Linked DNA regions of Homo sapiens. The gene in region 3 interacts genetically with the main gene of each other region. Each region holds a gene or a part of one and is shown on either strand. Other genes may lie near its edges.

Region 1 (3,753 bases), on a different chromosome or scaffold from region 3:
CAGCACAGTGGCCGTGGCGGTCAATGAGGGTTCACCGTGGTCCTTCACCAGCACCAGTAGGCGATGGCGCGGGGCGTCCACCTCGTCCAGGGCACGGGTCGTGCTGATCTCTCCCGTGTACAGCCCCACGCGAAACGGGATGCGCGCACCGCCGGTCCCAGGCTGCAGCTCATACGAAAGCCACGCGTTGTAGCCTGAGTCTGCATCCACTGCGCGCACCTTCGCTACCACGTGGCCCGCACCCACTGACCGCGGCACCAGCTCGCTCACTGCGCCACCGATGCCACCCACCCGAGGCATCAGCAGTGCCGGCGCGTTGTCGTTCTCGTCCAGCACGAACACCTGCAGCGTCACGTTGCTGCCCAGAGGCGGCACGCCCGCATCGCGCGCACTCACCTGGAACTGCAGCAGCTCTAGCTCCTCGTGGTCCAGCGGCTGCAGCGCGTACACCTTGCCGCTCTCCGCGTGTACCGACACGTAGCTCGACAGCGCGCGCTCCCCCACCCGCCGTTCCACCAGCGAGTAGGACACCAGGGCGTTCTCCTGCGCGTCCGCGTCCCGCGCAGACACCGTGAAGATGTGGCAGCCCGGCGGGTTGTTCTCCTTCACGAACACCGTGTACTCGGACTGCGAGAATGCCGGCGCATTGTCGTTCACGTCGGCCACCTCCACGGACACGCTGGCCGTGGCCCACAGTGAAGGCGAGCCCCCGTCCCGAGCAGTCACCACCAGCTCATAGGCCGACACGCTCTCGCGGTCCAGAGGGCTGTCCAGCACCAATGAGTAGTAATTCTTGAAGGTGGACACCAGCTTGAAGGGGACGTGGGGCGTCAGCGAGCAGGTGACCTGTCCATTGACTCCTGAGTCGCGGTCGGACACGCTGATCAGAGCGATGACTGTGCTAAGTGGAGAGTCTTCTAATACAGGTAAAGATAGTGATTGAATAACTAACTCAGGTACATTATCATTGATGTCCACAATTTCGAGTAGAACTGTGCAGTGATCTGACATTGGGGGATTTCCTTTATCCGTGGCTTCTACCTGGATTTCATATGACTTACTTTCCTCGAAATCTATGTTACCCTTTACACTGATTTGTCCATTGACTGGATCTAAATGGAATTTTGACAGAATATCTGCTGACATGTCCGTATTGAAAGAATACGCGATATCCTTATTTACTCCTTCATCCAAATCGGTGGCGTTAACGGTCACCACTAGGGTACCATTTGGTGCATTTTCGAGTAATCTGACTTTATAGATCGTCCTCTCAAACGCTGGGGCGTTGTCGTTTACATCTAAAACAGTGATCTTTAGTTGAGTCGTGCCAGTGAGCTCTGGTTTCCCACCATCAATTGCTGTTATTAGTAAATAATGCTTAGGAGTGTCCTCTCGATTTAAATTTTTTTTCAACACGAGTCCAAGGGATTTAATTTCCTCATCATTTCTTTTAACGTCCAAGGTAAAATATTCAGTGGAATCAAGACTGTAAGTCAACAACGAATTTGTTCCGATATCTGCATCTGATGCGCCCTCTAGCGAAAACCGAGAGCCAGGCTGTCGGGATTCGGAAATAAACAGATTCTTTACAGCCATTGGAAAAACTGGCGCGTTGTCATTAATGTCCTTCACTTCCACCTCCACATGGAAAACCTGCAGCGGCCTGTCCACGATCACCTCCAGGTGGATGCTGCACTCCGCGCTCCGCCCGCACAGTTCCTCGCGGTCTATCCGAGAATTCACAAACAAAATGCCATTCTGCAGATTTACCTCCAGAAGGTCCCCGTGTCTTTTGGACGCCACCCGGAACAGGCGCGGCACCAGCTCCGCCAGCTCCAGCCCCAGGTCCTGCGCGATGCGGCCCACGAAGGTGCCATGCTTGGCCTCCTCAGAGACGGAGTAGTGGAGCTGGCCGCTCCCCACCTCCGAGGCTGCGAGGAGCAGAAGAGAAAGCAGCAGGCACTGGGCTCCAGGATCTTCTCGCCAGGAGAACAACATTGCAAGTATTTTCCAAATATTAGATTGCCTTTACATTGATCCAAAGTTTAAAAATAATTCGAGTTCCTTATCTTCATTTCTTAAACTCCTCGGTGTTAAATTTTAGAGAGGATGAAGCAAAGCAGTATCTGAATACGTAATGCACGCTGTTATTTCTTTTGTGGAGAAAGACCTTGTGGTGGACAGCGACATCATGTGGCTAAACGTGTAAGTATTAAATATGTAAACGTATCTTCTTTTCCTTGTATGTCGTTTGAACTTTCCCAAAATTTCTAGTTTCAATTGTAATATCCTTCGGTCACTCCTCAAAGTCCTTATATTTTATCTAAATATTTCCTTAGAACTTTTATACTAATTCACTATCAATTGTGCTAATTCATGACATACACTAAAATATTGTGATTCCTGTTTTAACAGTGGACATCTATTGGAAATATTTCCCATGTGACAGCCACTTTTCTATTTGTCTTAATGGAATTATCCCGTTAAATTATCACAATCCTCTGAAATAAGTTTTAATATTATTCGCTTTTTATAAACACATAGAGGTTAAGTAAAACGATATTATCTCTTGGTACGATGGGATTTCAATCTGATTCAAGACAACTTACCATTAACCTCTTTACCACCCAAGTTACATTTTATAGAAAAATCAGATCCTTTCAGATTTATGATCATCAAAACATTGAGATGTTGAAGTATTTAAAAGTGTGTGTGTGCTGTATATATTAAAACATACATATATCTACTTTTATGTTATTACAGCAACTGTTAATTTCTTAAAATATGTACATTTATGGTTTTTTAAATTTGTAGAATGTCTGTAATTCCCTCCCATGCCCCTTTTTCAAGAACTATAGCCTCATCAACTGTCTTGACTGTAACTTACATAAAGATTTCAGAAGTCGGTCCTTTACAGAGAAATTCAAACAGGAAATTTGTTTCCTATTGTGGGAATGTGATTTGTATATTTGTTACACTCACATCACATCAATTAAGAATATATTAGGTTTAATTTTTCCACACTCTTTATGTATTTGAATTTACCTGTATATACTAAAATGTTAACAATATAAAGTAATTACGTTTTTGATGATCTCCACTCCTGATGAATTTCTAGATTCCAGTTTTTTTAAAAGTTGTTACTTGAAAGAATTGATTATTTAACTAAACAGTGAAGGGAGAAAAGTAACCTAGGAACATAAGCCAGTATTTACTCAACATATTTAACACTAAGCAATAAAACATTCTAAAGATATCTGTGAATTCAATGAGAAGCATGAATTCTCGCCGCATTTGGAAGTGGGGCAAAGAAAATTTATGGAAAGAGGTCAAATTTAGAGAAATAAAATAATGTACAAATTTTTGCTTATACCCAGACCATTTAAAAATGAAATCAAACATGTGATTTAAATATTTAGGGGAAAAGTTTTCATTTCAGCTTTTGTTTCCTGTGTATTCATGAAATGGAAGCCAGGACTGCAACTTACTCAGATTTTATCATTCATATTTAGAATAGGATAAATTATCAATTGTTGTTTTCATGAATAAATAAATTAATATTTTGAATTAACTTTTTCAAGCAAGATAAATAAAAATGTAAGTTAATGATATTTGTTAATATCAAACTTACATAATTTCTAAATGATTATATTGTGCTATATTATGAAGAAGTAAGTAAACATTTAAGCATTATTTCTGAAAAGCATGGACCTAAGAAATAATTATAGCTATTAATATTCCAGTTACCACTTT
Region 2 (3,753 bases), on a different chromosome or scaffold from region 3:
CTACCTTACAGTAAAGCCTTTTGAGTTTTAAGCATTTTCAGCAAAATCACTTCCTTCTTTCCAGCAACATACATGATAGGAAGACACAAACCTTAGAACACAGTACAAATGTTGTATTCACCAGTCAAGGGTTCTTGGATAACACACAATCCTGGCACCTCCATTCTCTCATTCATAAAGTCGAGAACTTTTATCATAGTGAGGGATTTGCCTAAGCTAAGCTGCAAACTACATAGCCTCCTCGCTTTTCCAGTCAATTTCAGGCATTCTTTCCATTGTTTTCTTTCCTCCTCTTCCTCCTATGTGACAATGCCTAACACACACACACGTGCACACACACACACGAACACACACACACGCACACACCAGCAGACGTTCTTCTTCCCTTTCCCTCACCTTGACCTGCAGATGCTCCCTCATCCTCTCCCTCCTGAGCAGCTGCAGGATCCTGACGTTGAGTTGCTGGTTCCCCTTCTTCAGGTGTTGCTGGTTCCACTTCATCACTGAACTGCTCGGGCTGGGGAATACGTGTGGGTGTGCAAATAGAAAATAAGTTTCGTTATTGATACAAAATTTTACATATATACACAGAATACATAGCTATTTCTGGTCCTAACTAAGCCTAAAGACATTTCTCCAACTCTATGCTCTATGCCCAATAAGGTTACTCCACCCACAGGGAGGTTACTGTGAGAAAAGTGACGCACGAGGACTTTGGGGGCTATTATACTCTGTGTTGGAATACATGTGTACAATCTGTCATTAACAAACAAAGCCGGAGAAAGAAGTCATGGGCAAAAGCTGAAGAACACGAGAGGAAAAAAAAAATCCTCCAGAATCAATGTTTCCTTCATGAGATGCCATCCTCATTTTTTATGAGCAGGAAAGACCTTTATCAGCATTTCCACACTAATGCAACGACGCTATCACAAAAATTAATTTCTACTAATAGAAAACATCGAATTAACGTTTAAGCACTCACCCGCATAGGCCCAATCATTTCAGGAGGCTGTACATAGCGCCTTGGTCTAGGCCAATAATAGGTCGATCTTCCTCGCCAACTCATATTTCACACTGAAAACAGACAACCGTGATTGGGAACGTGCGCTCCAGAGGGCTGCTATATTCGATCACTTCCATGGATAAATGTTAACTTGCCGTTTTACTTTTGAAAATACTCTCAAAATAAGTCCCAGAGTTAAGCATACGTGTGTACGCTGTCTGAGTGCCTACAAAGCCACTTCTGCTGGCCAGGCTGGCAGAGCAATCATCTTAAGGCGTGTGGCAAAAGGCAGAGGACATTTTTTTCTAAATTTCTTTTGGACACGCGGTCTCGCTGTGTTGCTCAGGCTGGAGTGCAGCGGCGTGATCACAGCTCACTGCAGCCTCGACCTCCCGCTCAAGGGATCCTCCCACCTCAGTGTCCCCAGTAACTGGGAATACGTAGGCGAGCGCCACTGCGCCCCGCAGACAGAGGTCATTTCTGATGAGGTTTAGTTTCACAAGTGCACTCCCCACGAAAACCCTAGTGAATCACAATTCTCGTGATTGCTGCTTTGGGCACACTCCCACTTCCTAGAGCCATTCACCCCCACTCACAACAAGTTTGGTTGGACCGCACTGCCTCGCCCACTCCTTCCCACTGTTTTCGGACCTTCCATGGCGGAGGTGAGACCTTGCAGTGCTTCTCACTCGGGCGCTCCGCACTCCACACCGCTGAGGGGGCGCTCGCCAGGCCGCAGCCTTCCCAGGTGCCAGGCCCCTTCTTCACCGCCCGCCTCGCCCCCGCCGGGGGCCCCATTCAGGGAATCTGCCCTGTGTCGTCGGGGATCCCGGCACCTCGGGACTTCCATCCCCCCAACAGCACTCACCCCGTCTTCACCTGAGCCCCTGACCGCCTCCCCTCCACGGCCCACCTTCCTCCCCGTCCAGGCCCCTTCACGACCACGAAGCCGCCGGTGGCCTCGCAGCCTGTGAAGGGAAGGAGGACGACCTCGTGGCCCTTCTCCCTCGGAGGCCACAGACCAGGAAGCGGGACCCGCCTGACCCACCCGAGGCCCTCTCCACCCTCACTCACACTTCAGCCCCCGGGATGACTGGCCTGCACACCTACCAGATGAATCTCAGTAGAGGAAAAAGAGTCCGGACGGCAGGAACCACACAGCACTGCCTCACAGCTCCCTGGCGTTCTTCACGTGGGCGAAGGGGCCGGGCAGAAGACGCCCAGTGAACATGCGCACTGAGGCGGGAGCCCAGGGAGCATGCGCGGCTGTGGGCTGGGGAGGGCTGCCGTTCCCAGCGCCACGCCCCAAACCCTCCATGCCCATCCTCATTGAGGATAAGGGAATCCCACCTCCCTCTGCTGTTTCCTATGCCTCTGGGACTCAAGTAGTGCTCCCCTCAAAACTCACCCCATCTTCAACTGAACCCCACCCCCAACCCAGGGCCCTCTCTTGCCCCGGACCCACCATGGGGACAAGGACCACTGTGACTGGCTGGGAAGACAGGTAAACCACCTGCGAAAACAGAAATAGCAACCTATCCCAAAAGGAAATTGTTCAATGTGAACAAGTCAGAGAAAGAGACTGAAAGAAAAATGAATAGAATCGCTAGGACCCGTAAGAAAATGCTAAAACGATATCTATCATTTGTAGCATCAGAATCGCAGAGGGTGAAGTGACAGTATTAGGGAAACAGGACAGCCAGAGTGACACCACGTGAAAATATACTCCGTCTTGAAAGCAGCAAGATACATAGTCCTACCAGTCACAACCCATGGTCCTAAGATGTTTGGAGTTGAGAAAACAGATGAAAGGTACCTCCAAGGACATGCTCCCACAGCAGCGGAAAGTGCACGGTTCCCAACACCCATTAACAATATATGCTTTCAACAGAATTATGCTTTCATGGACTTACACACTGGTAAGTCAAGGACAGTTTTCTTTAAATCAATAGAATGATAAAAGTCATCATGCTCTTAGCCCACCCGCACAAAGGCACAGATTAACTTTAGTCTTTATATAGATAAGACCCCTATATAAGAAAAACCAGACCAGGCCAAGGCTCACGCCTGTAATCCTAGTATTTTGGGAGGCTGAGCTGGCCAGATCACCTGAGCTCAGGACTTCGAGACCAGCCTAAGCAACATCAGAAAATCTCATCACTACAAAAAACAAACAAAAAACCATCGAAAAATTAGCTGGGCATGGTGGCATGTACCTATACTCACAGCTCCTCAGGAGGCTGAGGTGGGAGGCGCGCTTGAGCCCAGCAGGTCAAGGCTGCAGCGAGCTCTGATAACACCACCGCACTCCAGCCTCGGTGACAGAGTGAGACGCTGTCTCAAGTTTTAATAATCGAACCTAAAAACGTACAAATTTATCAATCGAATTCACTATATTAACACATGAATGGGAAAAAACGCTGTGGTAATCGAAATAGATGCACTGTTTGATGAAAATCAACATATATTCAAATGAATACTCTCAGCAAATTTGGAACAGAATGCAATGACTCACTCTGATAAAGTCCGTCTACAAAAAAAGGAGAGTGAATAGGATGGTGAAATGTTGAAATTTTTCGGTTTCTCATCAGGGATAAGACAAGGATGTCCACTGTCACCATTGTAACGGGTGGGTCTGCGCAATGCCATAAAATCAGAAAAGGAAATAAAACTCTTTACAATGGCAATGACGGGCCCGCCACGGTGGCCCACGCCAGTAATCCCAGCACTGTGGGAGGTGAGGTGGGTGC
Region 3 (3,653 bases):
TATTTTATTTTTTTAATTTTATTTATTTATTTTTTGAGACGGAGTTTCGCTCTTGTTGCCCAGGCTGGAGTGCAATGGCGTGATCTTGGCTCACCACAACCTTTGCCTCCCAGGTTCAAGAGATTCTCCTGCCTCAGCCTCCAGAGTAGCTGGTATTTTAGGTGCCTGCCACCACACCCAGTTAATTTTTTGTATTTTTAGTAGAGATGGGGTTTCACCATGTTGGCCAGGCTGGTCTCAAACTCCTGACCTCAAGTGATCTGTCCACCTTGGCCTCCCGAAATGCTGGGATTACAGGCGTGAGCCACTTCACCCGGCCCTATACTGGCCATTTTTTAACTTTAAGAAGCCAAAGTTTCCTGTTTAAATGAGCATAAATTAAATTTTACATACAGCTTGATGTCAACTACATTAGAAAAAGGCCAAAAGGAAATTATGAGAATAGCAGCTACCATGGATGTGTCATACCTTTCCCCCTGTGAATCGCAAAGCACCCATTCCACGATCGGCTCTGGAACGCTCTCAGATATGCAGACCAGGGCGTCCTGGTTTTCCATTTTTCTAAAGTAAGGTCTTCTTAATGTGTAAAGCAGGGTATCTAAAGCATCATAAGTTATTAACATTTTACTATTTTAAAAATAATTCTCTTAGCAGCCCCTCAGAAAAGGATTCTATGTCATTATGAAAAGTTCTCAACCATTACGTATACATATTTTTTTCTTTTTTCATAATAAAGGCATCAAAAGCAAACCAACCATTATATTAAATTTAGCTGTGGCTGCAGTGTCAACTTGAACATTTCTCCTCTTGGCCAATTTCTTTGGGTATTTCACAAATCCACAGCTAACTAAAGTAGTCGAGTGAAGCCATGTGAAAATACAAATATTGATAGGCACAGGAAAAAGGAAATTAGCAATAACATATGGCTTAAACCCTTGTTTAACACATAGTTTAGACCTCAACTTTCTTCCTATAATTTGATCTGCAACTAGGCAGAAATATACTAAGATTTAGAAAGACAGAAGAAACATGGTAGGGTGGAGTTGGAATTGCAACAGAACTTAAGAGGTTTAGTTGAGCCTCCCACTCACCCTGGATCACACACACACACACACACACACCATCCTTCACTCCCAGCTATTTCTAACATAAACTTTCTACTTCTACTTTGACTCTTCTAGAGACTGGAGTTCATGACCTCCCAGGGCAGGTCATTCTAATTTCTGACAAACTTTTTTTTTTTTAAAGAAAGTTTCCCTATACTGAATTCCAGCCTCTCTCCTTACAATAAATTTTGTTTGAAAATACTATGTACTGTTTGATATATATATATATATATGAAAGAATATATGGAGTGTAAATTTCAAAGCATAACAACAACAAATACCCACGGAGCCACTATCCACCTAATAACTAGAATATTAATAAATACCTTTTGATCTACTTTTATGCTTCTCCCCACCTCTCAACTGCACGTATCCTTTATCCTGAATTTTGTTGATTATTCGAGGACTCTTCAAAGTAGTTATACCAAATAAATATGTGGCACTAAACAATATATTGATTTTTTCATTCTTGAGCTTCAAAATAGTGTTATCAATCAATATGTAACTTCTACAACTTCATTTTTTCATCCAACCTTATGTTTTTAAAATTCATCCATGGTTTTACATGTAGCTATACTTTATTCATTTTTTTTTTTACTGCTACATAATATTCTATTGGTAAATATATCATTATTTTTTCATTTTCTTGCAGTAGACATTTGGGTTGTTTCCTTCCGTGTGTGTGTGTGAGACAGGGTCTCTGTCACCCAGGCTGGAGTGCAGTGGTGCAATCTCAGCTCACTACAGCCTCAACCTCCCAGGCTCAAGTGATCTTCCTGCCTTGGCCTCCCAAAGTGCTTGGATTACAGGTATGAGCCACCACACCCGGCCACAGTTTTTTGTATGATCAACCATGTGCTCTGAACATTCTACACATTTGTACTGAGGCATGTGTATAACAGTTTCCTTAATAACATTCTTAAGAGTGGAACTGCTGGTCTACATGGTATGAGCACATTCAGCCTTACACATAATGATCATTTGTTTTCCAAAGTGGTTATACTAATTTATGTTACACAGCAGGATATGAGAGCACCTATTGCTTTATAGACTTACCAAGACTTCTTAATTTTCAGCAATCCAGCAAGTATAAAATGGTATTTCATTGTGGTCTTAATTTAATTTCTCCATTATTAATTTAACATGTGTTAAAATAATTAATTGGGAGTCCATTAGGCTGAGACAACTCTAACAGCTTGAGTTCCTAGGTAAACAAATCACAACACAACTCAAAAAAAAAAAAAGGAAAAGAATAAAGGCCGGGCAAGGTGGCTCACGCCTGTAATCCCAGCACTTAGGGAGGGTGAGGCGGGAGGATCGCTTGAGCCCAGGAGTTCGAGACCAGCCTAGGTAACATGCCAAAACCCCGTCTCTACAAAAACAACAACAACAAAAAGCAAAAAACAAACCCAATTCAATATGAGCAGCAAAATGCAACTTAGCTTAATCAATGAGGAACTGCAAACTGACCAATCCAGGGACTGTCCTTCTTTAAACAATCAAATTTTTTCTTTGTCTTGCTTCCGGGAACACATTATAGAAAGAAGTCTTACCCTTGAATCTCCTCACTGGAGCCCACCTGCTTGCCATCTGGTACTGCCTGATTCATGAATTGCTTTCTGCTCAAATATACTCTTTACAACTTTAAAGTGCCTAAGTTTATCTTTTAACATGTTTCTTGACCATTTAGGTTTCATGTTCCAAAAATGAAATGCCTACTCATGTCCTTTGTTCATTGCTCTACTAGGTTTTCATTTTGTTCGTTTTTCTTATTGACTTATTGACTTATATAGATTGTTTATCTTATTGACTTTACATATTATGACTATTAATCCTTTGTTGATTGTGAACTGCAAGTATTTTTTCCCATCTTGAGGTGATTTTTACTTTTTCTCCCTGTAATTTCTAACAATTGGTTCTTATCATATCCTCTAGAGCAACTTTTTTAAAGTCTAGCTTTGATTCCATATGAAAATCTTTCAAATATTTAAAATCAGAAACCGAGATCAAGGGAGATAATTACCATACAAGGTACTTTAACTAGTTAGCTCAGGTTTCCTGACTCAAATCCCAAAAGAATTTCCTCTGCATTACACTGCAATCAATCTTATCGTCTCCTCAAAACATTTCCTTCTATATACTACACATTCCCAATTCCTTCAACTGCTCCTAATTTAAAGAATTCCAAGTTTTCCACTATCCTGGTTGCTCATTTTGTCAGTATTCATCTTTAAAAAAGTAGAACTGAAATGAATAAGCTTCTATTAATTTCCTTAATTTAGACGTTATATTTTCATGAACACTGCCAAGGTTCAAATTTACTTTTTTGGCAACCATGCCACGCTGGTGGTTAATACTGAGCTTGTGGTTGACTAAACCCTTTCCTCTTTTTCACACTGACTGTTGCCACATCTCTCCCACCTATTTTTTGGATCCCACCACCTTGCAGAATGCTAAAAATAAGTTATAATTTACCTGAATAACTGTTGTTACATTTTTACATTGTAAATCTTAAGTGAAAGGAATATACCCTAAGTATAACAGAGA

The links.
Region 1: changes in FLT3 (region 3) and PCDHA3 together harm fitness less than expected from each alone (positive genetic interaction), as found in Homo sapiens cells (one study listed by BioGRID).
Region 2: changes in FLT3 (region 3) and GAGE12G together harm fitness less than expected from each alone (positive genetic interaction), as found in Homo sapiens cells (one study listed by BioGRID).

Annotation. Positions count from the first base shown.
Region 1 is NC_000005.10:140,799,443-140,803,195, reverse strand, and holds the start of PCDHA3 (protocadherin alpha-3 isoform 1 precursor), read right to left. Parts: upstream 2,140-3,753; 5' UTR 1,999-2,139; coding exon 1-1,998. UniProt on the Homo sapiens protein: Potential calcium-dependent cell-adhesion protein. May be involved in the establishment and maintenance of specific neuronal connections in the brain.
Region 2 is NC_000023.11:49,568,868-49,572,620, reverse strand, and holds the start of GAGE12G (G antigen 12G), read right to left. Parts: upstream 2,222-3,753; 5' UTR 2,114-2,221; intron 1,075-2,113; 5' UTR 1,067-1,074; coding exon 983-1,066; intron 518-982; coding exon 397-517; intron 1-396.
Region 3 is NC_000013.11:28,052,077-28,055,729, forward strand, and holds part of FLT3 (receptor-type tyrosine-protein kinase FLT3 precursor), read right to left. Parts: intron 848-3,653; exon of another isoform or gene 756-847; intron 599-755; coding exon 469-598; intron 1-468. UniProt on the Homo sapiens protein: Tyrosine-protein kinase that acts as a cell-surface receptor for the cytokine FLT3LG and regulates differentiation, proliferation and survival of hematopoietic progenitor cells and of dendritic cells.